Regions from separate parts of the Homo sapiens genome. Here all the other regions are linked to region 1. Evidence: fine-mapped expression QTL. A gene starts in region 1. Each other region holds a variant in brackets. All regions are shown on one strand. Distances are between the middles of the regions.

Evidence for each region. PIP is the estimated chance that this variant, and not a neighbour inherited with it, causes the effect.
Region 2: its variant is fine-mapped to the expression of ITGB1BP1 in whole blood (TOPMed, PIP above 0.99). The same link has a PIP of 0.9 or more in cerebellar hemisphere.
Region 3: its variant is fine-mapped to the expression of ITGB1BP1 in whole blood (INTERVAL, PIP above 0.99).
Region 4: its variant is fine-mapped to the expression of ITGB1BP1 in whole blood (TOPMed, PIP above 0.99).
Region 5: its variant is fine-mapped to the expression of ITGB1BP1 in whole blood (TOPMed, PIP above 0.99).
Region 6: its variant is fine-mapped to the expression of ITGB1BP1 in whole blood (TOPMed, PIP above 0.99).
Region 7: its variant is fine-mapped to the expression of ITGB1BP1 in whole blood (TOPMed, PIP above 0.99).

Annotation. Positions count from the first base shown.
Region 1 is chr2:9,421,742-9,425,797 of GRCh38, forward strand. It overlaps ITGB1BP1 (integrin subunit beta 1 binding protein 1), which reads right to left and starts at 1,787. Exons shown (of 7, transcript NM_004763.5): 1 at 1,632-1,787. CPSF3 (cleavage and polyadenylation specific factor 3) reads left to right here and starts at 1,913. Exons shown (of 18, transcript NM_016207.4): 1 at 1,913-2,082. The coding sequence starts at 2,033. RefSeq lists enhancers at 238-1,096, 1,090-1,139, 2,010-2,059, 2,100-2,149 and a silencer at 1,280-1,579.
Region 2 is chr2:9,499,525-9,503,589 of GRCh38, forward strand. ADAM17 (ADAM metallopeptidase domain 17) reads right to left here. Exons shown (of 19, transcript NM_003183.6): 13 at 2,649-2,752. It also overlaps a transcript of IAH1 not described here. Among named protein-coding and RNA genes, the nearest start is that of IAH1, 27 kb to the left of the region's middle. The variant G/A (reference allele first, on the strand shown) is at 1,811.
Region 3 is chr2:9,566,344-9,570,408 of GRCh38, forward strand. LOC101929643 (a long non-coding RNA gene) reads left to right here. Exons shown (of 3, transcript XR_922777.3): 2 at 2,022-2,383. Among named protein-coding and RNA genes, the nearest start is that of ADAM17, 13 kb to the left of the region's middle. The variant AAAAAAT/A (reference allele first, on the strand shown) is at 1,702.
Region 4 is chr2:9,301,058-9,305,122 of GRCh38, forward strand. The region is part of intron 3 of ASAP2 (ArfGAP with SH3 domain, ankyrin repeat and PH domain 2); the gene reads left to right. Among named protein-coding and RNA genes, the nearest start is that of ASAP2, 96 kb to the left of the region's middle. The variant A/G (reference allele first, on the strand shown) is at 1,767.
Region 5 is chr2:9,397,730-9,401,794 of GRCh38, forward strand. It overlaps ASAP2 (ArfGAP with SH3 domain, ankyrin repeat and PH domain 2), which reads left to right. Exons shown (of 28, transcript NM_003887.3): 25 at 2,294-2,343; 26 at 3,013-3,101; 27 at 3,545-3,667. Among named protein-coding and RNA genes, the nearest start is that of ITGB1BP1, 24 kb to the right of the region's middle. RefSeq lists an enhancer at 2,815-3,378. The variant T/C (reference allele first, on the strand shown) is at 1,805.
Region 6 is chr2:9,484,009-9,488,073 of GRCh38, forward strand. It overlaps IAH1 (isoamyl acetate hydrolyzing esterase 1 (putative)), which reads left to right. Exons shown (of 6, transcript NM_001039613.3): 5 at 424-542. Among named protein-coding and RNA genes, the nearest start is that of IAH1, 11 kb to the left of the region's middle. The variant A/AG (reference allele first, on the strand shown) is at 1,915.
Region 7 is chr2:9,268,064-9,272,128 of GRCh38, forward strand. All of the region lies in intron 1 of ASAP2 (ArfGAP with SH3 domain, ankyrin repeat and PH domain 2), which reads left to right. It also overlaps the pseudogene EIF1P7. Among named protein-coding and RNA genes, the nearest start is that of ASAP2, 63 kb to the left of the region's middle. The variant CT/C (reference allele first, on the strand shown) is at 1,706.

The DNA.
Region 1 (4,056 bases):
GGCGATTGGATGCTCCGCAGGCTCATCAAATGCAAAGATGTCTCAAGCTGAACCCATCATCCTCCCCTCCAGATCTGCTCCTCTCCTCTCCTCTCCCTGTCAGGAGATTCTATTATTGCTGGAGGAAGCCAGAAAATCATGATTTCCTTGCTGTCCTTCAGGCCCCACATCCAATCTGGCACCAAGACCCACTGTATACCCCACCTGAAGAGCTCTCTGAGCCAGCTCTCCACCAGGGCCCCCGTCATCCTAAACCATGGGCACAGACACTATTTTTTTAGAAACTGATGAATGTGATGGATCCTCACCCTATAAAAATGCACATCCATACAAAGTTTGGCATGAATTTAAGGAATTCACAAACCCAAGGATATTTCGTGGATAAGGGACCTTGTCCTACTGGATTCCCTAACACTTTAAATCTACCCCCACACTGCAGCCAAAACGATTAAAATGATTTCTTTCAAACATGAATCTAATGCCACTAGCCTGCTGAAAATCTTTCACTGGTTCTCCAAAGTCAGAGACCAAAGTCAACGTTCTTCAGCACGACACGCCAGGTCCTCCAGGACCCAGCTCCTAATCACCTTTCCACTTCCATCCTCCACAACCCGGGCACAGTTCATTGATCTCAGCAAGGCAAAGCTGCTCCTGGTTCTCAGCGCGATGCTCCACGCGCCCCTGCTTTGCACCGCCCGGGACGTCCTTCACCTGTCAGGCACTTGGCTACTTCTTACCTTTCAAGGCCCGTTTCAGGCTGCAGGCCTTCCTGGGATCTCAAGGCTGGGGTAAGGGACCCACAGCTTGAGTGTACCCCCTGATCACAGCGCCACGATCTGCTGTGGTCTCTGATCTCACTCTCCCAGCTGCACGCTGGTCAAAGGCGGAGCTCGGTGACTCCTCTGCATTGCCAGGGCGCCTGGCAGGGGACGCGCTTACTGAAGCCGAGAACTTTCTGGGGAGGTGACACCCCAACAGCGATTCCCATGTACCAAACGCCTACCACGTGCCATGCACGGTGCTAGGTGCACAGATCCCTCTCACCCTCACCCTCACCGACCAGCAAGGCTGCAGGATAACAGCCCCTTTCAAACGAGGATGCCAAAGCGCCCGAAGAGTCAGTGACCTGCCCAGGGTCACCAGAGTAAGGACGGATGCGGCCAAGCTCGGGGCCTAGGGAGAGCCGGCTCCGAAGTTCCTCCCAGACGCCAGCCTGCTTGGCACCTGTCTGTCACCGTGATGGAGCACCTTCCAAGCGCTGGGTGCGGAGGATGTGACAGCGAAGGGGACAGACAACCCCGACCCTGAGAGGCGGGAGGCGGCCGAAGCGGGGCAGAGGAAGAGGCAAGGAAACGGCCCGCGGCCGCCCGCCTTGCCGCCCCTCCGGGGCGACAGCGGCTCGGGAAGCTGCAGTCCGCAAGCCCACGCCCGATCTGCGTGGTTCCAAGCTCCTCCACCCGCGCCCCGGGAGCGCGGCCCCGCCCGGAACCAAGCCCGAGCCCAGGCATCCCTCCTCCGCCCGCCCCGCGGCCCCACCCATCCTTCCTGGCCGTCCGCGCCGCTCTCGGGACCGTGTTCCCGTCAGGCCTCCGCGAGCTCGGCCCCAAGCGGGACGAGGGCTGGGCGCTCACCTCGCAGCCGCGGGCCCATCCCCGGGTTGCGGACTTCGGGGTCCGCGTGGGAGTGCCGCGGCCTTTGGCGCCCAGGCAGCTACTCCCGTTCCCGCTCCAGCGCCGGCTTTTCCAGCCCTCCTGCCCACGTCCGCCGGGCCGCGCCTCCAAGACTATGCGCAGGCGCAGTCCTGACGTCCTACCCCCGGTTCCAAGACCCCAAGTGGTGGGAAGCCTCGCGAGCGGCGTCCCCCGACCGGAAGTCGAGGGGAGGAGTCTAGTGCCGCGGGCTCCGGAGTGACGGAAGTTGTGCTCTTGGTGAATGGGGTTCTTCCTTTTTTATTTACCGGTGGCTGTGCTTCCAATTTAGGAAGACCCCGGCGACCTGTTCCTCACCCCCGCTTCGCCCTCACACTTTCGGGATGTCTGCGATTCCTGCTGAGGAGAGCGACCAGCTGCTGATCCGACCCCTGTAAGGGACCAGCGAGAGAGGGAATGAAGCCACGGGCTGTGAGGGGCGCGAGGGGTAACCGGAGACTGGCCTCCTCCGTCGCCCGCGCTCCCACCTACCCCGGCAGCCTGCCTTTGGTCCGCGCTTGCGGGCCAGGCTTCTCAGGCTCGAGGGGTTGGAGGACCGTTGATCGGAAGGGGCCTGCTATAGAGTGAACGGGATTTTGCTTTTTCATCAGTTTCAGGGGAGGGTATGTTGGAGTCGGAAAAAAAAAAGTTTTACGGGGCCACCGCTCGCTTTCGTACACGCTAAGAAGCGTTTTCACTTAGCACAAGCACGGATCTCTGCGCGTCAGGGCAAGCTGTGAGGGAGCCGGTGAAGCTTATGACCGACAGGATGAGAGGAGGACCTGAATGAGGCTACAGCCGTGCAGGGAAGAATTAAGTCTGTTTCTTAACACCAGGGCTTCACATGTGCCAGAAGTTAGAAAATATTAGGGACTTGCCGTGAGTTTCGATCTTCTCAGCTCAGGCCCTAGTAGAATAAGGAAGGTGTAAAGCTGGAGAAGAGAAAGTGCAGAGGTGTTAGGGACAAAAACTCAGCCCTCGACTGTCCATAAGGAGAGTGGCCTTTCAGTGGACACGATCCTCATCAGTCGGGAATGCTGCTGAAGGGGAGATGCAAATGTAGAGAACTTGAATTCCTACAGATGAGCATTTCGAACCCACAACATGTTTATTGTTAGATACTAGTTGGCACAACATGAATATACGCTTTCCAAAAGGTAGAAAGTATCTCCTTTACACAATCATTCAGTAAGGCTTCATTGAGCACCTGCTTGGGACATAGTCCGTTTCCTTCTGCTTAGTTCACACCTGTCATGTCTTCCTGTGATGAGCAAACACTGAGCAAGTGTCAAGCACCACACATGGGGATATAGACGCAACAGAGGGCCCAGTTAATTGCTCTCGCTCTTTTGGAGAGAATTACAGTGCACAGTGGGAAATATTGGAGAGATACTTTGGAATAATAGGAGACTATTACTTTGAAGTCAGACCTGAAGTCCATTATCTACTTGACCAATTAGTAGGACAACAATCTCACTGAACCCGTTTTCTCATATGGAAATAAGATAAAACTTGAAGAGTGAACATCGCGGTAGGTGCTTTGTAAATAATAGCTAATCTAAGAACGCAGGCAGGCATTGCACTGAGCACTGTGAAAGTATGGAAAAGGGATTTCTGACAGATTGAGGAAAAAAGGATACCTCGTGGATCCTGAAAAATGTGATGCCTGAGCTGAGTCCTAAAGAATGAGTAGGAGTTAAAGACTGGGGGGCCCAGGATGTTCTAGGCAGTGGAAGTGGCACATATGAAAGTGAGAGTGGTCACAGCTTGTGGCCAGATTCCTCATGGCTGTAGCTAAAGAGTTGAGTTAGCAGATGAAGCGACAGGCAGTTGAGGTCCAGTTTAGGAAGCACCTCGTATACACAGGAGTTTGGACCTTTATCAAGTCAATTACAGGGAGCCAGCGAAGGCTATTAAGCAAGCATGGATATTGTGGGAATTATGTTTTAGGAAAATCTCTCCTGGCAGCAGTGTAGCAGATGAATAAAAGCATGGATGAATAAAAGCATGGATTGAGTAGAGCAGATTCAGTGAGATATTGAAAGATTCTAAGTCTAGCTGACGAGAGCCTGTAGTGAGTGATGTGAGTGTGAGAGAGTATGCAAATGAGATCTTCAGGATTTTGTGGCTGATCAGCTGTATCTGGAAGGGTGGTTGTGGGGAGGGAAGGCAGGGCAGAGAGGATGTTATGATCAGATTCCTAAGTTTGGCAGTTGGGAAAGGGTAGTGTTATTCACTCAAGGAGTATAAGAGATGGGGCAACTCTGGAGTAAATTTGGGAATTTGGTTGTTTCGTAACAGCTTTATTGAGATACAGTTTACATACCATACAACTCACAATTTACATACCATACAACTCATTTAAAGA
Region 2 (4,065 bases), 78 kb after region 1:
CCAAGTAGCTGGGACTACAGGCGCCCGCCACCACGCCCAGCTAATTTTTTGTATCTTTTAGTAGACACAGGGTTTCACCGTGTTAGCCAGGATGGTCTCGATCTCCTGATCTCGTGATCTGCCCACCTCGGCCTCCCAAAGTGCTAGGATTACAGGTGTGAGCCACTGTGCCGGGCCATCAGGTTCCTAACATTTGGCAAAGTAATGTGATAGTGACAGATCCCAAAAGATAAAAACATGGGCAACATGTCATACTATGCACACGGAAAACCAAAATCAAGCCAAAATAGGACACAACTTCATTCACTAGGTCCCTGAAGACCTCCAGCTTTCTGTTTGCATCCTTATCACAAAACCTAGGATAGTTACAATAAAAAAGATAACAAGTGTTGGTGAGGATATGGAGAAGCTGGGACCCTCATACAATGCTGCTGAGACTGTAAAATGGTGTAGCCATTTTGGAAAACAGTCTGACAGCTCCTCAAAAGATTAAGCATAGTTACCACATGACCCAGAAATTCTATTCCTGAATAATATCCAAAGGAACTGTCCACACAAAAACTCATAGATAAATGTTCACAGCAGCATTATTTGTTATAGCAAAAAAGTGGAAGCAACCCAAATGTCTATCAACCAATGAATGAATAAACAAAATGTGGCATATCCATGCAATGGAATTTACCCAGCAATAAAAGTACATGAAGTACTGATACATGCTACAACATACATGAACCTTAAAAATGCTATGTTCAGTGAAAGAAGCCAGTCATACAATATGTGGTCACGAAACCATATTGTATAATTCCATTTATATGAAATGTTCAAAACAGACAACTCCATAAAGAATAGGGTGGTTAGTGGTTGCTCTGAGTTGTGGGGAATGGGGGGATTGGAGGATCATAGCTAAAGGATACAGGGTTTCTTTCTGGAGTAATGTAAATGTTCTAAAATTAATTGTGATGACTGCATAAATCTGAATATACTAAAAATCATTAAACTGTACACTTTAAATGGGCAAACTACATGAGTGTGAATTATGTATCAATAAAGCTATTACAAAATCAAACCAACCAACCAAGAGAGACAAATTTTGAAAAATATAAGAATGGGACAGATAGATATATCAGAGGAACAAAAAAACTAGAATAGCAAACTGAATATTGCTTTTTGACAATTTAAGTCAAAAAACATCGCAAGGGTAAAAAAGGAACATTATATACTGGTAAGGAACAGCAGATAAAGATGTAGAGATATGTCCGTTTATATACCTAGTAATAACATAGCTTTGAAATTTTTAAAGCAACAATTGACCGAACAAAAGATACTGGACACCTGGAAAGGTTAGCTCCAGAAAGATTCAAGTCCTGAATGTAAAAGGACAACTTATGAAGCTAATAGAAGCAGCTGTGGAAAATATCTTTTTAACCATCCGCCATGGCTTTTCTGAACCATGTGTTTAAAAAATACACACACACAACAAAATGATGGATTTGATTACGTTAAAGATTTCTGTTCTGAGAATGGCAACAGATAGGAGACGTATGCCCAAATGGATGATTACATAAGAACTCCTCCAAATTCACAGTAGTGAAATAACATGAAACCCAATTTTTAAAAAATGAACCAAATATATGAACTGGCTATTCACAGGAGAAATCTGAATAGCTGAAAAATATAAAGAGATGCTCAAGAAAAATGTAAGTAAGTGCATTAGGACAAGGGCTGTTAAAAAAAAAAGTAAGAACAAGAGATTACTTTATACTCATCATGCTAATAGGACAGCAGGGTAATTCCAAGCGTTGGCCAGAAC[G/A]TCAGGATAAGGAGTCCTCAGACACAGGCAACCTAGCAGTGGTGCTCTAGAGACCAGCACATCCTGCCTCTGTGACTACACAATGACACTCCTCAGTACCCAGAGAAACACACAGGTTCCTGAAGGGACGTAGGAGGATGTGATCTGTGTCCTATCTGGAATATCAAGGGGATGAAGGCAATGGAAGTAGCTACCACTTGGTGACTTGTAAGTAAAACACAGCCAATCATATAACTAAACAATATGTAGGTGTCCCCAACAGTGAAATACATATAGATACATATAGAAAAACTGGTTACCCTTCTAACTTGTATCCTGCTTCCTCCACACTATTCCAGTGCATAGATTCATGATAACATTCATTATCCCAAGATTGTCATTTTGATTGTTTCCAAAATTTTGCTATTAGGATGTAGCCATTAAAAACCTTGTTATATTATCTGTAGCACAATATGGGTAATTCTTTAAAACATGATACTGAATTTTTTAAAAGTAAATTTAAGGTAGAATATCATTTTGGCACATTAAAAACACATACATGCACAAAATAACACTATATGATCTTTCAAGGATATACACATATCCAGGCAAATATTAACCACAGTAGAGTGGATGTCTGTGAGGAGAAAGAGGAGAGTGATGGAAATGAAAGAGAAATAGAAACAGGTCTTAAACCCACCAAAGCCAAGTGTCACAAACTAAGGAGTGCCAGAAACTCAACCCGGCATATGAGATTAAAAATAAGGTGTCTCTCATCTGAACAAAACATAATCTTGTTTTTCAAAGACACACACACACTTGACCCACAGCATTCCAAGGAAGCAACAAGAACACGAACCTGTGCAGTAGGACACGCCTTTGCAAGTAGCATTAATCGCCTCCTGGCACTTCTTCTGGGCAGTCTCAAACTGACAGTTTTTACAGCAAGGACTGTTCCTGTCACTGGAGAAGAACAGCAGACAGGAACAGAGCAATTCAAATTATGGCCCCATATCAAATCAAACGCTACAGTTACGTTACAGTGACCTGAAGATCACCGGGGAAGACCTCCTGGCTCCGTCACCCACTCCTACATCATCAGACATCTCCGCTGCTAGAGCTACCTGCACACACTTTGTCCCTTCCTAATGTGCGTGAGGTCACATAAATGCCACACTATAGGAGAAAAGAATGGGAACACAGCAATCACCTGTGAAACATCTTGGTGCCCTTGGTTTTCATTCATTTAACGCATTAATTTAAAAAAGACAAGATGGGCTGGGCGAGGTGGCTCACACCTATAATCCCAACCCAACACTTTGGGAGGCCGAGGTGGGTGGATCACCTGAGGTCAGGAGAGTTCGAGATGAGCCTGGCCAACATGGTGAAACCCCATCTCTACTAAAAATACAAAAATTAGCTGGGCGTGGTGGTGCGCTCCTGTAATCCCAGCTACTTAGAAGGCTGAGGCAGGAGAATCGCCTGGACCCCGGAGACAGAGGTTGCAGTGAGCCGAGATCGCACCACTGCACTCCAGCCTAGGCAACAAGAGAGAAATTCTGTCTCAAAAAAAAAAAAAAAAAAAAAAAAGATGAGGCAGGTGGACCACGAGGTTAGGGGTTTGAGACCAGCCTGGCCAACATGGTGAAACTCCGTCTCTACTAAAGATACAAAAAATTAGCCGGGCATGGTGCTACATGCCTGTAATCCCAGCTACTCGGGAGGCTAAGGCAGGAGAATAGCTTGAACCTGGAAGGCAGAGGTTGCGGTGAGCCAAGATCGCGCCACTGCACTCCAGCCTGGTCAACAGGGCGAGACTCTCTCAAAAAAAAAAAAAAAGACAAGGAAAAAAAAAAAAGACAAGGTGGGGCCACAAGGCAATCCATAGCTAAGACACTCGGCAGCCAGAACTCTACTCCCCATCAGTATTTACAGCGTTAATATGCACTGTATCCAGTTAAATCTCAATTATTCACCAGAAAACTGAAGTTTAACCCTTTTACTTCTAAGCCAGGCACTGGTCTATCAGTGTATATAAAAAATGAAAACCTGGGTAACTTTCTAACTTGTAACCTACTTCCTCCACACTATTCCAGTATATAGAATCATGATAACATTCATATCCCAAGACTGTCATTTTGATTGTTTCCAAAATTTTGCTATTAGGATGTAGCCATAAAAAAACCTTGTTAAATCTTATACCCTTGTTAAATCTTATCTCTGTTGCCCAAAAGATTCTTTGGGCAGCCAGGAGCAGTGGCTCACGCCTGTAATCC
Region 3 (4,065 bases), 140 kb after region 1:
TCCAGCCTGGGCAACAAGAGCAAAACCCCTTCTCAAAAAAAAAAAAAAAAATTAACTGGATGTGGTGTCATGTGCCTGTAACCCCAGCTGCTCGGGAGGCTGAGGCAGGAGAATCGCTTGAACCCGGGAGGCAAAAGTTGCAGTGAACCAAGATTGCACCACTGCACTCCAGCCTGGACAACAGACAGACCAAGACTCCGTCTCAAAAAAAAAAAGAAAGAAAAAAAAAGAATCTGGGCTGGACACAGTGGCTCATGACTATAATCCCAGTACTTTGAGAGGCCGAGGCAGGAGGGTCACTTAACCCCAGGAGTTCAAGACCAGACATAGTGAGACCCTGTCTCTACAAAAAATAAAAAAATTTTTGTAGATTTTTTATCTACAAAAATCTGGGCGTGGTGGTGGATGCCTGTGGTCACAGCTACTCAGGAGGCTGAGGCAGGAGGATCACTTGAGCCTGAGAGGTCGAGGCTGCAGTGAGCTGAGATCGTGCCACTGCACTCCATCCTGGGTGACAGAATGCAACCCTATCTCAAAAAAAAAAAAAAAAAAAAGAACCTGCTAACCTGCTACTCTAGACCCCCTGCCTTGAGGACGGTGGCATTCACATTGCAGCTATTGTGAAAAATGTCCCCAGAGTTTACAGGCTACAAGCTAACAGTGGCACTCCGACTGGGAGCCCAGAGGGCAGGCTCTAGGATCCTGATCAATGAGATCTGCTTATGAAAACATCTTAAAACCTGGACTACAGAAAAAAGCACTCTTGCTTCCATACTGTTCAGATTATGTATGCAAAACGAGTAAGAACTGCCCAGCCAGTGTGCCTCTCTGCTTAATATAGAGCTTAGAAGTCCTCTAATTCTGTTTTGTTTTGTTTTCTGAGACAGGGTCTCACTTTGTTGCCCAGGCTGGAATGCAGTGGTATGAACATGGTTTACTGCAGCCTCGACCTCCTGCGCTCAAGCGATCCTCCCACCTCAGCCCACAGAGTAGCAGGGACTACAGGCACATGCCACCATGAGGTTTTGCCATGTTGCGCAGACTGGTCTTGAACTCCTGGGCTCAAGCAGTCCTCTGGCCTCAGCCTCCCAAAGTGCTGGGATTACAGGTGTGAGTCAGAAGTTCCCTAATTCTGATATGTGTGGTCACTACGCAGTTCTGTGCTTTGCTTCCAAAGGACTGATCACCTTGAAGAACCAGAATATAAAGAGGTTACGTTGGGGGAACATTACCATTTATTTATTGGCTTACTCTGAAAGACAAGTAAGTTAGTGCAGAATCACAACGTTGGCTCATTATTGGTATCATGGGCAGCCTGCAATGTTTGCTCATCATATCTATCTAGTTATATATTGATTATTTACATTCTGCTTTGTTCAATAAATAATTTGAAAGCATACATCCATTAAAAACTTCAGGGCCGGGCGCGGTAGCTCACACCTGTAATCCCAGCACTTTGGGAGGCCGAGGTGGGCAGATCACGAGGTCAGGAGATCAAGACCATCCTGGCTAACACAGTGAAACCCTGTCTCTACTAAAAATACAAAAAAATTAGCCAGGCGTGGTAGCAGGCACTTGCAGTCCCAGTTACTCGGGGAGGCTGAGGCAGGAGAATGGCGTGAACCCAGGAGGCGGAGCTTGCAGTGAGCTGAGATCGCACCACTGCACCCCAGCCTGGGCAACAGAGCGAAACTGTGTCTC[AAAAAAT/A]AAAAATAAAAAATAAAAACTTCAGTTAGGCTGGGCACAGTGGCTCACACCTGTAATCCCAGCACTTAGGGAGGCTGAGGCAGAAGGATTGCTTGAGCCCAGGAGTTCAAGATTAGCCTGGGCAACATAGCAAGAACCCATCTCAAAAAAAATTATAATAAAAATAAAAACTTCAGTTAATAACATAGATGCGAATTTGAAATATACAGAGGAATGTGGTTGCCATCTAGTCCGATGATGTTTTCAAGCTCTTGTGTTTTGGGGTTTTTTTCTTTTAGCTATAGTACCCTATCTGCAAAATAAATCTTTTGCAGGATCGTATTGTATAAAATGGATGAAAACAGAGCTATTGGGTTTGAAGCACTCCTGAACCCTCTCATGGAACCCTATGTCTTCCTGGAGTCTACAGAGCTATTGGGTTTGAAGCACTCCTGAACCGTCTAGTAGAACCCTATGTCTTCCTGGAGTCTACAGAGCTATTGGGTTTGAAGCACTCCTGAACCGTCTAGTAGAACCCTATGTCTTCCTGGAGTTTACAGAAAAAGAGACTCAGGGATTTTCCCAAAGCACACTGCAAGTTAGGGGCAGGAATGACAGCCCAGACCTTCTGGTTTCCAGTCCAGGGCTCAACTGCCTAAACAGTGGCATCTCTTCAGGCAGGCCCTGTCAGAGGCAGGTTAGTATTTTTATTTTACTTCTTTTTTTGGTAGAGACAGGGTCTTGCCATGTTGACCAGGCTGGTCTCAAACTCCTGGCCTCAAGTGATCCTCTCACCTTGGCCTCCCAAATTGCTGAGATTACAGATATGAGCCACTATGCCCAGCCCAGGCTAGTTTTTTTTTGTTTTTTTTTTTAAAAGAAACTGTCTTGCTCTGTCACCCAAACTGGAGTGCAATAGTATGATCACAGCTCACTGTAGCCTGGAACTCCCCGGCTTAAGTGATCCCCCCACCACCTGAGTAGCTGGGACTACAGGCGCATGCCACTAGGCCTGGCTGTTTTCTATATTTTGTAGATACAGGGGTCTTACTATGTTGCCTAGGCTGGTCTTGAACCCCTGAGATCAAGCGATCCTCCTGTCTTGGCATTCCAAAGTGCTGGGATTACAGGTGTAAGCTATTGTGCCCAGGCCTCCAGGCTAGTTTTTGATTGCCACCTGACAGATGAGTTTGCAATCCAACATTTGCTGGTAACAGGATCATCCACCCAGCACAATATACTCAAAAGGAGCAGCTGGAAGGCTAGTCATTCACTAATTGCCACCTCCAGTGTCTCAATAACGAGGCATTCAAGTTGAGCATTTAAGGCAAAATTCAAAGAAATTAGACATCTATTTTGGGAGACATGAGAGGGCACAATGCTTTCCTACACAGATGAGAGCTCTTAACTCTTTGTGAGGTAGAGGGATATTTGCCTTTAAGAAAGTAGGTGGATGAGGCCAGTCATGGTGGCTTATGCCTGTAATCCCAGCATTTCGGGAGGCCAAGGTGGATGGATCGCTTGGGCTCAAGAATTTGAGACCAGCCTGGGCAACATGGCAAAACCTCATCTCTATAAAAAACACAAAAATTAGCCAGGTGTGATGGTGTGAGCCTGTAGTTCCAGCTACTCGGGAGGCTGAGGTGGGAGGATCACTTTAGCTCAGCAGGTGGAGGTTGCAGTGAGCTGTGAACCACTGCACTCCAACCTGGGTGACAGAGCTGTACCCTGCCTCAAAACAAACAAAAAACCCTGGCCCGGCACGGTGGCTCACGCCTGTAATCCCAGCACTTTGGGAGGCCAAAGTGGGCAGATCACTTGAGGTCAGGAGTTTGAGACCAGCCTGGACAACATCATGAAACCCCATCTCTACTAAAAATACAAAAAATAAGCCGGGCATGGTGGCAGGTGCCTGTAATCCCAGGTACTCGGGAGGCTGAGGCATGAGAATCGCTTGAACCTGGGAGGCAAAGGTTGCAGTGAGCCGAGATCATGCCACTGCACTCCAGCCTGGGTGACAGAGTGAGACTCAGTCTCAAAAAAAAAAAAAAAATACCCAAAAACAAAGAAAACAAAACAAAACAAAAAACCCCAGAAAGTAGGGGGGTGGCGCAGCTTAATTTGGGTATATAAGCTCTCTTCATCTGATTTTAACCTATAAAGGACTCAGAAGAAAATCATTAGTACCCATTATTACATTAGAAGTAATATCTCCCCCCAAGCAATCAGGAAGTTTCTTCGCTTAGGATGGAATATGTTAGCAATAGGCTTTCCTTCACTTTAGGGAAGCTGCTCATTCTGCTATCTGGACAGCAGGAAGGAATTCTTGGCTGAAAATTCAGAAGTCAAGGGCAAGCCAAATCTTCCAAACCCTTTATC
Region 4 (4,065 bases), 120 kb before region 1:
CCTTTTTTGGAATTTTGTGCACCATTCTTCTTCCTGTTTTTGGTCACATCTGGCTTATCTCATATCTTCCAAGCCTTGCTTTTGCTTTCCCTCGGGCATTTAAAACATTTCAGTTCTGTCTGGCTAAGACTCACAGTGCTACCTCTTGTCCAGAAAGAATAACAATTACCACCTACCTGCTTGGAGGCGTGAAAGAATGTTTATAAAGCAGTTGGAAGATCTCCAGAGAAATGCCAGCTTAATATAAAGCAAGATTTTCTTACTAATGGGTGAGATTCTCACCTGCAGAAGTCTGTGAATTTTCTCTGCGGTGATGCAGGATGAAAGGGAAAACCAGACGGCTCCAGAAATGTGACATGTGTGAAATTAAAGTGCTTATGAAGTCAGCCTAGTTTCAGGGGTTCTTTTCCTCTTCCCCAATGGATGTGAGAATCCTGGAAAGACTCCAAGGGCCACCTCTGTGCTGAGAAGTGGCTTTCTAATGAAAGGCTGCATTTCAGGGCAGGTTTCTGAAAGGTTTGTTACAGATATGTAGTCTCTGTCTCCAGTGTTAGAGGATTGTTAGTGAAAGATGTCCTCACGGTCTGCAGAACCCGCTCCACATGAAGATCAGCATCCATTGAAAGCAGGAGCCAATGGGTGCTGAGGAGAGGACAGAGTTGCAGCATGAGATCTGAGGTGACCCTGGGCTAAGGAGTTTTCCCTCACCCATGTTGATAGAGGAAATGGAAAGCTCTACCAAGCAACGTGTGTATCCATCATCTTTTTTTTTTTTTTTTTTTTTGAGACGGAGTCTCGTTCTGTTGTCCAGGCTGGAGTGCAGTGGCACAATCTCAGCTCTCTGCAAGCTCTGCCTCCCAGGTTCATGCCATTCTCCTGCCTCAGCCTCACATGTAGCTGGGACTACAGGTGCCCACCGCCATGCCCGGCTAGTTTTTGGTATTTTTAGTAGAGATGGGGTTTCACCACGTTAGCCAGGATGGTCTCGATCTCCTGACCTCGTGATCCACCCGCCTTGGCCTCCCAAAGTGCAGGGATTACAGGCGTGAGCCACCGCGCCCGGCCTTTTTTTTTTTTTTTTTCCCAAACACAGATGATGTGAGTTAGAAGCCTTTTTTTTTTTTTTTTTTTTTGAGACGGAGTCTCGCTCTGTCGCCCAGGCTGGAGCGCAGTGGTGCAGTCTTGGCTCACTGCAGCCTCTGCCTCTCGCGTTCAAGCGATCCTTCTGCCTCAGCCTCCCGAGTAGCTGGGACTACAGGCACGTGCCACCATGCCCAGCTAATTTTTATATTTTTAGCAGAGACGGAGTTTGACTGTATTGGCCAGGCTGGTCTTGAATTCCTGACCTCGTGATCTGCCCACCTCGGCCTCCCAAAGTGCTAGGATTGCAGGCATGAGCCACCATGCCTGGCCAACTTTTTTTGTTTGTTTGTTTGAAACAGAGTCTCACTGTGTCGCCCAAGCTAGAGTGCAGTGGCACGATCTTGGCTCACTGCAGCCTCCGCCTCCCGGGTTCCAGCTATTCTTGTGCCTCAGCCTCCCAAGTAGCTGGGATTATAGGCGCGAGCCACCACACCCAGCTAAGTTTTGTATTTTTAGTACAGACGGGGTTTCTCCATGTTGGCCAGGCTGGTCTCGAACTCCTGACCTCAAGTGATCCACCCGCCTGGGTCTCCCAAAGTACTGGGATTACAGGTGTGAGCCACCACCTGTAATACCAAAGTACTGGGATTACAGGTGTGAGCCACCACGCCTGGTCAGAAGAC[A/G]TTATAGCTAACCTTACTAGGGAGGTAGTAAGGTTCTGTTGGGACAAGCAGTAGTTTGTGGCTTTCTCATATGTGCTGCACCTGGCAGAGGGGCATCCTGGCTTGGCTGCATTGGTACTAGTACAGCAGGACTCTGCCCAGTGCTGTCAGGCTTAGGTTAAGTGTGAGCTGATTGTCCATATTAGTAAGGCTTGTCTCGTCACTCAATATAGACATCTTGCTACCAGAGGTCCTCACCCTCAGTACTTCCATAGACTTTCTCCTAACTTCTTGTATTGCAAATGTCTTAGATTCTTAAATGTCTTACTTTGTTTTTTAATTAAACAAGAGCAATGATCATAGTATCATCTTTTTGGGAGGAAGATTTAAGTCACTGTTTTAGACATAAACTAATGAACTATGCTGAAATCTAGAGACATCCCCAGTGGCTTGGGGTACGTGGGAATATCCGCCCTTGGATTAGTCCTGGACTATTATTAGGTGTCCGTTTCTGACATTTGCTTTTTAATATTCTGACACTTTTTCTATTGGTTGCCCTTTTTCCTGCTGTCAGTGCTTGGGTGCCTCTAAGGTCTCTGTTTCACGATGCTGCGAGCTGAAGAGCAAGGTGACTTGGCTTGTTAGACTTGGGTGCAAATTAGGAGTCCATAGGCTTCGCTTGAGGAGGGCTTGAGGGCTAGGGCTTTGAGTGAGGAGGGGAGAGAGAGTACCTTGATGGACTTGCTGACAGTCGCTTTGGGCCCCTAGAAACCTCTGCCATTTAGATTTTGGCATGGCCTCATTTATAGTTGGAAATTCCTTATCTAAGACCCAAAAGACTTCAACGCTAAGCTATGTTCTATACTCACAAATCTCTAACCAAAAACAAAAGCACATTGTTTGATCGAGACAATGAACAAATAAGGCTGGTGTCAGATATCTACATTTTGGTTGTGGCATAGCCACATAATAGATTTCCATTGGACTTGGATACTGTTTCTTTTTGGGGTTGGGAGGGAATGCTGTGATACGGTAACCCCCATACAGAGAAAGTGGGAGAAGCCATATTGGGCAAAGATAGCATGGTGAGGCCTTGGGCGTGGGAGGGAGAACTCACAGAGACGAGGACTGGGCACCTGCTGGGTGCTATCCATGCGCTGGTGCTGTATGGGGCGGTGACCTCTGGCAACTCCTGCCTGGGCAGGGGACACAGATGCTTTTATTAGAAGACATGTGCCGGGACAGCCACTGGCAGCCTGCGGAGCCCTGAGGGTACAGCATTGGAAGCAGGGAGCAGTGACTCCCCGCCCTGAGCCCTGGGTCCCTGCTTCCCTGGATCCCTGAGGGTGGAGGGGCACTGCAGTATGGCACTTGTCCATCTGCACACAAGCCTGCTTGCAAGGTTTAGAAATCAGTTTCTTCACAATTGTCAAATGTGTGTAGGACATGCTGTTTCTGTTTGAAAGTATTAATGAACCTAAAACAGGGTTTGTTTTTGTTTTTGTCATTGTGTGTTTTCTTAATTGCTGGCTATTAAAGGGACAACTGCCACGATGTAGGTGACCTCAAACTTAGAAAAAAATTGTTTGCCAAATCTACAAGGTACTGTGTGGAATGGCTCTAGTGGGGATGTAGATAGGGGGTGGAAGGGCTGTAGGGGGTGTAGATATGCGGTGGAGGGGCTGTAGGGGGGGTGTAGATACAGGTGGGAGGGCTGTAGGGGGATGTACATAGGTGGGAGGGCTGCAGTTGTGGGGGTGTAGATACAGGGTGGAGAGGCTGTAGTCTTGGGAGTATAGATATTGGTGGAGAGGCTGGAGTAGTGGAGTATAGATATTGGTGGAGGGGTTGTAGTATTGAGGTATAGATATTGGTGGAGGGGGTGTAATAGTGGGGTATAGATATTGGTGGAGGGGCTGGACTAGTGGGGTATAGGTATTGGTGGAGGGGGTTGTAATAGTGGGGTATAGATATTGGTGGAGGGGCTGGAGTAGTGAGGTATAGATATTGGTGGAGGGGCTGGACGAGTGGGGTGTAGATATTGGTGGAGGAGGTTGTAATAGTGGGGTATAGATATTGGTGGACAGGCTGGAGTAGTGGGGTGTAGATGTTAGTGGAGAGGCTGGAGTAGTGAGGTATAGATATTGGCGGAGGGGGTTGTAATAGTGGGGTATAGATATTGGTGGACAAGCTGGAGTAGTGGGGTAAAGATATTGGTGGAGGGGCTAGTGTAGTGAGGTATAGATATTGGTGGAGGGGCCGTAATAGTGGGGTATAGATACTGGTGAGGGGCTGTAATAGTGGGGTACAGATATTGGTG
Region 5 (4,065 bases), 24 kb before region 1:
ATATATATATATATATATATATTTTTTTTTTTTTTTTTTTTTTTTTTGAGACGGAGTCTCGCTCTGTCGCCCAGGCTGGAGTGCAGTGGCTCGATCTCTGCTCATTGCAAGCTCCGCCTCCCGGGTTCACGCCATTCTCCTGCCTCAGCCTCCTGAGTAGCTGGGACTACAGGCGCCCGCCACCACGCCCGGCTAATTTTTTGTATTTTTAGTAGAGATGAGGTTTCAGCATGTTAGCCAAGATGGTCTCGATCTCCTGACCTCATGATCCGCCCGCCTCGGCCTCCCAAAGTGCTGGGATTACAGGCGTGAGCCACTGCGCCCGGCCTCAAAAGGATATTTTGTGGCACATGAAAATTGTGTGAGATTCACTTCAGCACTCAGAAAATATTATTGGAACATTAGCCACACCTGTTTTTTTATGTAGTCTGGGGCTGCTTTCACACCACAGTGGCAGAGTTGAATACTTGAAACAGAGATGCTAGAATCCACAAAACCAGCTGGGTGCAGTGGCTCACACCTATAATCCCAGAGCTTTGGGAGGCCGAGGCAGGAGGATTGCTTGAGACTAGGAGTTCGAGACCAGGCTGGAAAACATAGTGAGACCATGTCTTTACAAAAAATTTTGAAAGTTAGCCAAGCATGGTGGCGTGCACCTGTAGTCCCAACTACTCAGGAGGCTGAAGCGGGAGGATCACTTGACCCCAGGAGTTCCGAGGCTGCGGTGAACTGATTGCCGCACTGCACTCGAGCTTGGGTAATAGGGCAGGACCCTGACTCAAAAAACAAACACAAAGGCCAGGCACAGTGGCTCACACCCGTAATCCTAGCACTTTGGGAGGCCGAGGTGGGCAGATCACCTGAGGTCAGGAGTTTGAGACCAGCCTGGCCCACATGGTGAAACCCCGTCTCTACTGAAAATACAAAAAATTTGCTGTGCGTGGTGGTGCACACCTGTAATTCCAGCTACTCGGGAGGCTGAGGCAGGAGAATTGCTTGAACCCGGGTGGCAGAGGTTGCAGTGAGCCGAGATTGTGCCACTGCACTCTAACCCGGGTGACAGTGCAAGACTCCATCTCAAAAAAAAAAAAAAAAAATTCACAAAGCCTAAAAAGTTTACTATCTGCCTCTTTAAAGAAAAAGTCTGCTCACTGCTGTCTCAGAGGATCAGGCCTTCCCTGCGAGTGTTCTGTAGTTAGGGATGACTGCCGGCCAGGGGGTCAGCCAGGTCAGTGTAGTGATGTCTGCAGAGACATTTACACCCAGAGACACAGATGGAAAACAAATGGCTAGACTGGTCAAATGGGAGGGGTCTTTGTTTTATGGAATAAAACAAAGTTCCTTTTCAGTTCCTTCAGCGTATGAGCAAAACCCATGTGATGTTTTCTCTCCCTTCATTCTGGGACTGCAAGCATTGAGGCCAGACAGGGTTCATTCCGAGCAGCGAAGGGAGTGTCGACAGACGGGAGCGTACAGTGGAAAGAATCCCATCCTTGCCTTCCCCTTCCCTTCCTCCCTGGTCTTCCTCTTCTGCTTCTCCAGCCCCCGTCCTGTGCCTGGCTTTATGCTAGGTCCAGGAGATCCACCGGGGAGCTGAAGCCACTGGCACTGGTCCTTAGCTCTGGAGTTGACGGATCTTGTGTCACACCTTTTGCAGATGAAAATGCTGACTCTCCAGAACCCATTTATCCAGGGCTGCCAGGTGGCAGGTTCGAGATGAGGGACCCCTCTCTGCCAGCCCTGAGAACTACTTCCTCACTCATGTGTTTCTACCTTGTGGCTTTGGGGTGTGCTGGCCCAGAGG[T/C]TCATGGATGGGGCTTGAGCCCGTGGTCAGCCACATTGGTTCCCAGAAGCAGGGACGGCAGAGGCATGGACAGCGCTGACCCAGAGTGCTCGGACCCGTCCTGGCAAAGCCATCTGGGCCTGAGGTTAAGGTTCAGCCCTGCCCTTTCATGTGATGGGACCAAGGCAGGGAAGGGGCTGAGCAGACTCGGGGCGGGGCCAGTGGCCAGTGCCCAGCATCACTCCAGACCCTGGCCATCGGTGGCAGGCTCACGTGGACAGAGTGCTCTGGAAAAGCCCTGGTTTTAGGATCAGAAACGTTGAATTTAGCACTTTCCTCAGGGCCTCTCATTCTTCCTTTTCCCATAAAAAAGAGACAGCTAAGTGACAGTGGAGGAAACCACCTCACACACTCTGAGCTTGAACTCAGAAGGTTCTCTGATAAAAGGGGATGAGAAAGGGGCAGGTGCCCTCCGGTAGCAGTAAATCTACTTTTTCCCTGTCTTTGTAGGGCTGACAAGTCCACCCCACTGACCAACAAAGGCCAACCGAGAGGACCTGGTAATTATTTAATTTGGGACTGAGTTTGTTTCTGCTTGGTCCATGGGGGCAATGTGGGGGATGTTTCCTGCCAGGTGGTCAGGACTGAGGGAGGGCCCAGCTGTCTGCCATTCCACAGCCCTCCTGCCCCCTCCCCTCCTGCCCCCTCCCCTCCTGCCCCCTCCCCTCCTGCCCCCTTCCCCTCCTGCCCTCTTCCTCTCCTTCCTTCCCTCCTTCCTTCCTTCCTCCCCCACTCCTGCCTTCCTCTGCTCCCTTCTCCTCCTCTCCCCCTCCCTCCCCCATCTCATGCCTTCCTCCCCCGCCACCTGCCTTCCTCCACCCCTCCCTTCCCCTCCCCTCCTCTCACCCTCCTCCCTGCCTTCCTCCTCCCTCCTCCCTCCTGCCATCCTCCCTCCTCCCTCGGCCTCTGAGACCCCTGCTCCTGAGCAGCTCAGTCCTGGGGCCCCTCACCTGTCCCCTCCTGCTGACATGGCAGGCTCACTGGGGGACACTCGCTGCCACACAAGCTCTCCAAGGTCTGCATCCAAGTCAGAAGGTTCCCTTTCCCCTCAACAGATCGGAACACCTGGGGAAACCTGCTTTCAGACACACCCTGTGGCTTGTACATTGTTTACATCTCATGGCTGTGATTGATGGGATGTCTTAAGCTGCTTCATTTTTGCCCTACAGTGGATCTCTCTGCAACGGAAGCTCTGGGTCCTCTGTCCAATGCTATGGTCCTGCAGCCCCCTGCACCCATGCCTAGGAAGTCGCAGGCAGTAAGTGACGAGCCCCCTTTCCTGCCTCTCTGCTCTAGCCAGGGGGGTGCAGGTGGTTTCACAAGGGCTCAGGGGAAGCAAGTCTTCCCCTCTTCCCCTGGCTGGGGCAGGGCGGGGCTCTTCTTGGTACCTGACTGCTTGGATCTGGGCAGCTGGTGGGTTTGGCCCTCCTGCCGCAGCTCCACAATGGGCCCACTCAGAGTACCCTGCCCCGGCCGCTTCGTTTCCCAGCCCTTGGCCCCTTCTCTCTGCTTGGTGGGGAGCTCTTCCCTTTTCTCTCCCTGGCTCCTGAGCTGCACTGACCTGCCCCACCTTGGCATCTGCAGGCTTCTCAGGCCTAGGTACGGGACTCCTGAGACCGGGGAAGGCAGGGTGCTTGAGCTCTCTGCCCTGAGAGCTGAGGCCTGCAGCCACACTAACCGTTGTTCCCTCTCCTGACCCAGACCAAGTTGAAGCCTAAGCGGGTGAAAGCGCTCTATAACTGTGTGGCTGACAACCCCGATGAGCTCACCTTCTCCGAGGGGGATGTGATCATCGTGGACGGGGAGGAGGACCAGGAGTGGTGGGTGAGTCAAGGGTGGGCCTGGGAGGTTCCTGGGGGCTGAGCCACGTCCCTGCCCACCTGGCTGGAGAGACGGGCTTGCAGGTGAGGTTTTCTCAGCCTGAGCAGTCCAGATGTAGTTCCTGGTGCCTCCGCCCCTTAGCATCCTCAGGAGCTGCTTCCTCCATGGACACCCCCTTCTGAGCAGGCCTGATTATTCCCCAGGGTGGCTTCCTCCCCTGTTAGGGTGCAGTTTCCACAGCACTCATGAGGGCCTGAAATGACACTCCTTCATTTTGAGGTCTTGAGTTTCTAGGTCATCACCCCCCATTGCTGGATTAGTGGAATCGGGTGTCTGGAGAGAGCTGACCTAGAGCGCAGAGCCCCAGGCCTGAGTCTGGTCCTGAAACAAGCTGTGGCCGC
Region 6 (4,065 bases), 62 kb after region 1:
AGCCAGCGGTGTCAGCGCAGCGTTCAGCTTCCATGGCCTGGCATTTCCTACTAGTGCAGCCCTTACCAGCCCCCAGCCCAGCTCCTGCAGCCGGCACTCTCCAAGCAGCCCAGCCCTCCTGGGCCTTTCCTGCCTCTCTGCCTCTGTTCAAGGTGTCCTCTAGAACATCCTCCCTGGCGCCTCAGAAGATTCCGGTTACCACTGAAGGCTCCTTCTTCCCACTGCACCTTGTCCTCTGCTGGGTAGAGCAGCACACCAGTAACCTGCAAGGCTCATCAACATATACCCTAAACCCCGGGGCTGGCCCAAGTGGGGTCAATATTTAATGGCATTTTGAAACTGTCTAGATGAGTGGAGCAGAACTTACACAAGGGCCAGCACTTGGGTTTACCAACTGCCACCTCTATTTCTTCTCTTCAATAGGTTGCAAACTAAATCGCCTGAACTCTGTTGTTGGTGAATATGCCAATGCGTGTTTACAAGTGGCCCAAGACTGTGGGACTGACGTACTTGACCTGTGGACCCTGATGCAGGACAGCCAGGTACGGTGGCTTGCTCGGTCCTCTCGGGGTAAATAGGATCACACAGAAGTAAACCAGGTGTGTGTGCAGCAGCTTTCCCTAGAAAGGCCCTGCTTAGCTAAGACAGTCATCCCTTTAGCCAATGAAAACAAACAGGCTTGGGGGAGGGGAGGAATGGAGGTTCCAGGATGGCTCACAAGCCCAGCAGCTTAATTCAGCCAGGCTCCTTGGCTAGGAGTTAGTGCGCAGTGACATCAATGAGCAACACATGGCTCATATTTATGAACGTCCAGGCCAAGTTCTTCTTTCATACAGAGAATGGCAGAAAGCTAAAACTTGTTAATAGGTAAAACAATGAATTTAAATACAGTATTGGCTAATAAAACTGTTTGAGATATGTAGTTCTAATTAAGTTACTTTGTTTTAAAGCCTGAAAGCACAAATATAAAAGGTAAAAAGCAGGTCCCATGGAATGGTGCACTGACTCAGGAGACAGCTGGTTTCTGACGCAGTCACACATACACTTAGGGAGGACCTGGCAGTCCACTCCTGGGTTATCTGCCCTAGAGAAATGAAAACTATGTTCACACAGAACCTGGGTGTAACTGTTGACAGCAGCATTATTCCTACCTGCTGGAAACACGCCAGTGTCCTTCTGTGATGAATAGGGAAACTGGTGTGTCCGTGGAATGGGATACTACTCGGCAATAAAGAGGAGGAACTGACAAGCGCAGCAACGTGGGTGACTCTCGAGGCGCTTCACTGAGGGAAGGAAGCTGGTCTCTGAAGGCTACTTACTACATGAGTCCATCTGTTTTGGTGTCTCAAAAAGGCAAGACTTGGGCTGGGTGTGGTGGCTCACACCTGTAATCCCATCACTTTGGGAGGCCAAGGCAGGTGGATCACCTGAGTTCAGGAGTTCAAGACCAGCCTGGCCAACATGGCGAAACCCTGTCTCTACTAAAAATACAAAAATTAGCTGGGCATGGTGGAGCGCGCCTGTAATCCCAGCTACCCAGGAGGCTGAGGTGTGAGAATCGCTTGAACCCGGGAGGCAGAGGTCACACCACTGCACTCCGGTCTGGAGGATACAGGGAGACTGTCTCACCCTCCCCAGCCCACCCCCCAAAAAAAGGCAAGACTGCAGTAACAGAACAGGTCCATGGTGGCCAGAGGTTAGGGCAAGGAAAGGTATGGCTAAATTCAGGTTCCACACAGATACTGGTGAAGAGGGGCAGACAGGCACTGGTCTTTTTTAATTTTTCTGTGACCTTGTGCTACTCTTTTGTAAAGAGCTTGTTCAGTAGGGCACATTAAAGGCTACTTCATTGCTATGCTGGGATCCAGAGAGAAAGCTTGGACGGGACTGATGATATTTGAAGTACTCAAGGGA[A/AG]GGAAGGATCCAGTGTGCGGGAAGCTCTTTGGACAAACGGGAAGACTCACAGCCTCACCGGTTTCCTCTATTCCTAGCTGTTAGGTTTAGGCTACTTGGACAAAGCAACATAGAAAACAGCCAAGAAACTAACCCAAGTGCCAACTTTTTCCTCTCCCCTAAATATTAATCCATACCAATCGTTCCAATGACCTACACATTTATTATCCATCTGTAATAGGGAAAATGGTCACCAGTGGGAAAGTCATACTACCACGTGGATGCCGAGTCACCAGTCACCTTTGGAGGCCCTGAGAGCCTAAGCAGATCTGGACCCTAGGCCTCTAGTCTTCCTCTGAAACCCTGGAGTACTGGAACCTTCCAGAATTCCAGATTAGGAGGGGCCTTGGCAGCTTGAGTGCCAAAAGGGTCGACATCTAGAGTTCTGTTGTCTAGGAAAGGAAACTGCAAACTATTGGGCTAGTTTTGCTCACATGTCTTTTTCAATTTAATACAAAACTGAGAGGGTCGTCCTTAGAGATCATCTCATCTCAAACTGCCTAGATGAGAAAACCAAGGCCGAAGAAGAAGTGCTACTATTATATGATAGCATCTAAATTTCTGGTCTATTAAAAGTCACATAAGGCCGGGCGCGGTGGCTCATGCCTATCATCCCAACATTTCGGGAGGCTGAGGCAGGTGGATCACCTGAGGTCAGGAGTTCGAGACCAGCCTGGCCAACATGTTGAAACCCCATCTCTACTTAAAAATACAAAAATTAGCCAGGCGTGGTGGCAGTCACCTGTAATCCCAGCTACTTGGGAGGCTGAGGCAGGAGAATCACCTGAACCCGGGAGGCAGAGGTTGAATTAGGCCGAGACTGTGCCATCGTTCTCTAGCCTGGGCAACAAGAGTGAGACTCTAGCTCAAAAAAAAAAAAAAAAGTCACATAAGCTAGTTGGCCACCCAGATTCTAACAGAGCTCTTGGCTAGTGAGATTCTTCCCCAAGAAAGAAATGGCTGTATGGGTAAAATTCTTATAGTTCAGGGCCTGGTATGGCTGCTCATGCCTGTGATCCCAATACTTTGTGAGGCCAAGGTGGGAGTATTGCTTGAGCCTAGGAGTTCAAAACCAGCCTGGGCAACATAATGAGAGACCCATCTCTACAAAAAGCACAAAAATTAGCCAGGTAGCCAGGTATGGTGGCACGTGCCTGTAGTCCCAGCTGCTCAGGGGGCTGAGGTTAGAAAGATCGCTTGAGCCCAGGAGGTTGAGGCTGCAGTGAGCCATGATCATGTCACTGCACTCCAGCCTGGGCAGCAAAGCAAGACCCTGTCTCCAAAAATATGTGTATCTTTTTAAATATGTACTCTTGAGTTCAGGGCAATGGGAGGGAGACTGGACTCCTGTGTCCCAGCAATTACTGTTCTAGGTTAGATGGTAGAAGTTCTTTCTGCCTAAAAACCTGCCTAGAGTCAAAAACAATATTGACTCATGGGGCCCCTGAACACTCCTAATACCAAATTTTTCATTTTTGCTGATTACGTTAATAGGCCATATTTACCTGTTAAGGTTCTTTCAAATAACCTGAGAATCATGTCATATGATTCAGAAGACCTGGAATGAGGTCCCAGCTCACTTAATGGTGAGTGACTTTCATGAAACTCAATTCTATAATATGGAGACAGCACTATAGCACTAGTCAGGGTTCTCTGTGTGTTCAAACACCTACGTAAATAGCACATCAGTGCTACTGTAGTCCAAGACACCTCTGGTCAGATGCCTACAATGAAAGGGGCTGGTGATATTTCTGTCGCAGGGCCACAAATGAGAGAATGGTACACACTGGCATTTAGAAAAGTTATACCCTCCCTCCCCGGCCTTTTTGTGTGTGTGTGTGTGTGTGTGTGTGTGTGTGTGTGTGTGTGTGTGCGCGCGCGCGCGCGCGCTGTGGGGGGAGACAGTCTATCACCCAGGCTGGAACTCAGTGGTGCAATGATACCTCACTGTAGCCTCCAACTCCTGGGCTTAAGTGATCCTCCCATCTTCGCCTCCCAAGTAGGTGGGAATACAGGTGTTTGCCACCACACCCAGCTAATTTTTGTATTTTTAAAATTTTTTGTAGAGACAGGGTCTCAAACTCCTGTCTTCCAGTAATCCTCGGCCCCAAA
Region 7 (4,065 bases), 150 kb before region 1:
ATCCCTAAACATAAACAATTTAGTTTGGCCTGTTTTTGAACTTTTTATACTGCATGTATTCTTTTGCTCAACATTTTTGTCAAGTTCACTTGTGTTGTGGGGTAAGTTTGTTCTCTTCCGTTGCTGTGTAGCATTCTGTTGTACGAATGTCCATCATCAGTTTATTCATTTTACCATCGACATTTCGGTTTATCCAGTTGGGGGCTGTTTTGAGGAGTGTTAGGACAGCCTGTCCATGTCTTCTGTTGTGGATGTATATTTACTCTGAGTAATTTTAATTTTTTAAGATAATACCAAAACACGCCCTTCTCATCTGTCCTTAGGCACACACTTTCCTCAGCTGTGACTTAGCTCAGACGTCTATTTGATCTTAATTCTTAGCGACACCTGCTATTCTTCAGGCCTGGCTTTATTCCCACAAGGGGGGAGGTTCGTTATTGCTCTGGCTTTAAACGGAGCCCACAGGTCACAGTGCAAGTCTACGCTTCCCAAAAGGCTTCTGGAAATATTTGACACTGTCATTAATGCTCTCTGTTACTTTCTGAAGAGTCGAATGCGTGGTGAGACAAAGCTGCCATCTGAATGTCTGTCTGACTCTTCTTGGCAAAGCCACCCTGGGGGCACGGACCTGGGTGTGTTTTGTTTTTTGTTTTGTCTACTGTCTTTCAGAAATGTCCCTTCTTCTCAGGCTGGCCTTTCGTCCGTGGAACGAGGGGAGAGGAGATAGGACGGGAGAGCGGAGCATGCTAGGGCTGCCTGAGTGCTGCAGGCCTCTGCTCTCCCCAGGGCAGCATCTTCGGGTTCTAAGAAGGAAGCCAGCCTCTTCCCACCCCTGCTGGTTCGCATTGAGAACTCAGGGTGCTGGGGACAAACCGGTGCTGTGCTGCCTGCAGTGTGGGCTCCCTGTCAGGGCTGGGAGGAGTGGGGTGCAGGGGCCGCTGGTGCTGTGGGAGGGGCATTTTGCATGGATCCTTGAGGCCAGGGCTCAGCAAACCTTTTCTGTGAGGGGCCAGAGATAGTAAATATTTTAGGTTTGGCGGGCCTCAAGGCGGTATGTAGGTACTTACATAAGAGAGGTGATAAATATCTACAAATTTTTTATTAATGAAATTCAAAATATAAAAATAATAATGGAGTACAATTTTTTGGTAATGCAGGTCTCCTAAGGGGAAGAGAGGAATTATTTTGCGGGGGGGAGGGGGCGCGCATAACATTTATCTTAATTAATTTGGGTTCAGTTGGTCTTTCCTGTGACCCTGTCCTTGCATTCATTGGAAATGTTCGTCTGGAAACACCCTTAGCTCACGGTTGGATAAAAGCTGTCCCGCAGGCCGTGTGTGCCCACCCTGAGCCAGGTCATCTCCTCAGATAGTGGGCTTGGCCCGCACCATTCAGCCTGTGGTGACACAGGATGGAGGCCCTGTAGGGTTCTGTGGGGGACCAAGAAGAGGTAGAGGAGCCCCCACATGGAGGAGGGTGGCCATGGGGTGATGTTGATGCTGAGCCCACGGGGGAACCATGGCCAGGGCCTCCGGGTGACCCCAGAGGTGGTGGCACCGCCCTCAGGCGGTACAGTGGGGCCCATGAACGGAGGAAGAGAAGCATGGGGTTGGGGACATTCAGAGGCCACTGTGCTGCCTGGGTGGCTGTAGCTCTTGCAGAAGGTGGCAAGGCCTGAGGAACTGAATTTGAAATTTGAATGAAT[CT/C]TTATAGAAACATTCCTCTGTGGCTACCCTGTTGGACAGCACAGGTGTGGAAAATGAGTGAACAGCTTTGTGGTGGTCTCTCCTGTGGTGGACTTCCCTTACCCACAGTGTGCACCGTCCCCACTGTCCCCACACACTGTCCCCGTCCCCTGTCCTGGCTCCAGCTCAGCTGAGCAGCAGAGATTGGAAGAGGCCCCTCGGTAACTTGAGAGGAACCTATAGAAGAGTTTGGGAACTCCAAACAGATGCTTTTAAAGTGGTTTGAAACAGTAGTTTTCCTCAGAAATATTTGGGACACATCCCCCTCTCTGGTTTTTGTGATAAGTTCACTCTGTAAAACTTGTTTGACAAACTGAAGGTCAGCTTCCACCTGGCCCCTGAGAATTAATGAGGTCTGGCCAGGCGGCAGCTGCAGTGCAGGCCCTGCTCCTGTCTTGGGGTCTCTTCGGTTCTTGCCTTTGTTTGTGTTTTTTACACATAAGTTCCCGTGAAAGTTGCTTTTCCCCCGCTCTGAGCTGGAGTGGAGTTTTCGTTTGGGGAGCATGGTAGTTGAGAGCCTGGGTCTGGTTAGAATTCTCAGCCTGATGGGTAGACATCTTTGCTTCCTCGAGACTCAAGCTTTGTTATTTTTTGTTGCTCTAAGATTTCAGTATTTTTTTTTAAATTTTTGATTATTGTGGGTACGTGGTATATATTTTTATGGGGTACATGGGATATTTTGATACAGGCATGCAGTGCATAATAATCACATTAGGGTAAATGGGGCTTCCATCACCTCAAAGCATTTAGCCTTCTTTTGTGTTACATCTCAATTATACTCTCTTAGTTATTTTTAAATGTACAATAAATTATTGTTGACCTTTGTCACCCTGTTTCTATCAAATACTAGATCTTATTCATTCTGTCCACCTATATTTTTGTACCCATTTACCATCCCCACTTCCACCCCACCTACCCTTCCCAGCCTCTGGTAACCATCCTTCTACTGTCAGTCTCCATGAGTTCAATTGTTTTCATTTTTTTTTTTTTTTTTTTTTTTTTGAGACGGAGTCTCGCTCCGTCGCCCAGGCTGGAGTGCAGTGGCGCGATCTCGGCTCACTGCAAGCCCCGCCTCCCGGGTTCACGCCATTCTCCTGCCTCAGCCTCCCGAGTAGCTGGGACTACAGGTGCCCGCCACTACGCCCGGCTAATTTTTTTGTATTTTTAGTAGAGACGGGGTTTCACCGTGTTAGCCAGGATAGTCTCGATCTCGTGACCTCGTGATCCACCTGCCTCGGCCTCCCAAAGTGCTGGGATTACAGGCGTGAGCCACCGCGCCCGGCCCTGTTTTCATTTTTTTTTATGGCTCTTTTCAGTTTATTTCATGAAGGAGTTACACTAGTCCAAGTTAAAAGCGGACCCCAAATGGTTACATTATACAAGCTGTGAGGTTTTTAAACTTGTGACAAGGGACAGAAGGGAAATTCTACTCATTGCAAGGAAATCCTCACTTAAACTACAGTGAGCCACAAGCATTTAAACCCCATGAATCTTCAGCTGATCGTCCTTAGCCAGTCCAAGCTCTACGAGGAACTGGCATAATATATGTTCTTGCACCTGTCACCCTGTAGCTGAATTACTTCTCCATATTCTGGATGCTCAATTACAGTACCATTGCAGGCAAACTTCTTAAACGCCTTCACTGGTTTCTTTTTGGTGTAATCATCAGCGATCCCTTGGACAGTAGTAAGGGCCTTCCTGCCGTTTCTCTGTTGAATTCTTATATGGATATAATCCTCAGTGCCAGCAGGAAGCAGGTCATCACCCTTACTTGCATCAGCAAAGGAGTTTAAATAGTGGAGGTTCTGGATAGTGGACATACGATCCAATTTCTTTTTCTCGGTGGAAATGGTCTGCGGAAGACGGCGGGCAGAGGGTACGGAAAGTAGGGAAGCGACGGGGCCCAAGGGGGAGGCTGCTGAGTCCTCGGCAGTGGCTCAGTGACTGGGGTGGTTTTAATTTTTTTTTTTAGCTCCCACAAATAATTGAAAACATGGAGTGTTTGTCTTTCTGTACGTGGCTTATTTCCCTTAACATAATAACCTCTATTTCCATCCACATCATTGCAGCTGACAGGATCTCATTCTTTTTTATGGCTGAATAGTACTCCATTGTGTATAGGTACCACATTTTCTTTATTCATTCTTCTGTTAGTGGACACTTAGATTGTTTCCAAATCTTGGCCATTGTGAACAGTGCTGCAGTAAACACGGGAGAGCAGGTACCTCTTTAGTATACTGATTTCCTTTCTTTTGGGTATGTACACAGCAGTGGAATTGCTGGATCATATCATAGCTCTATTTTTAGTTTTTTGAGGAAC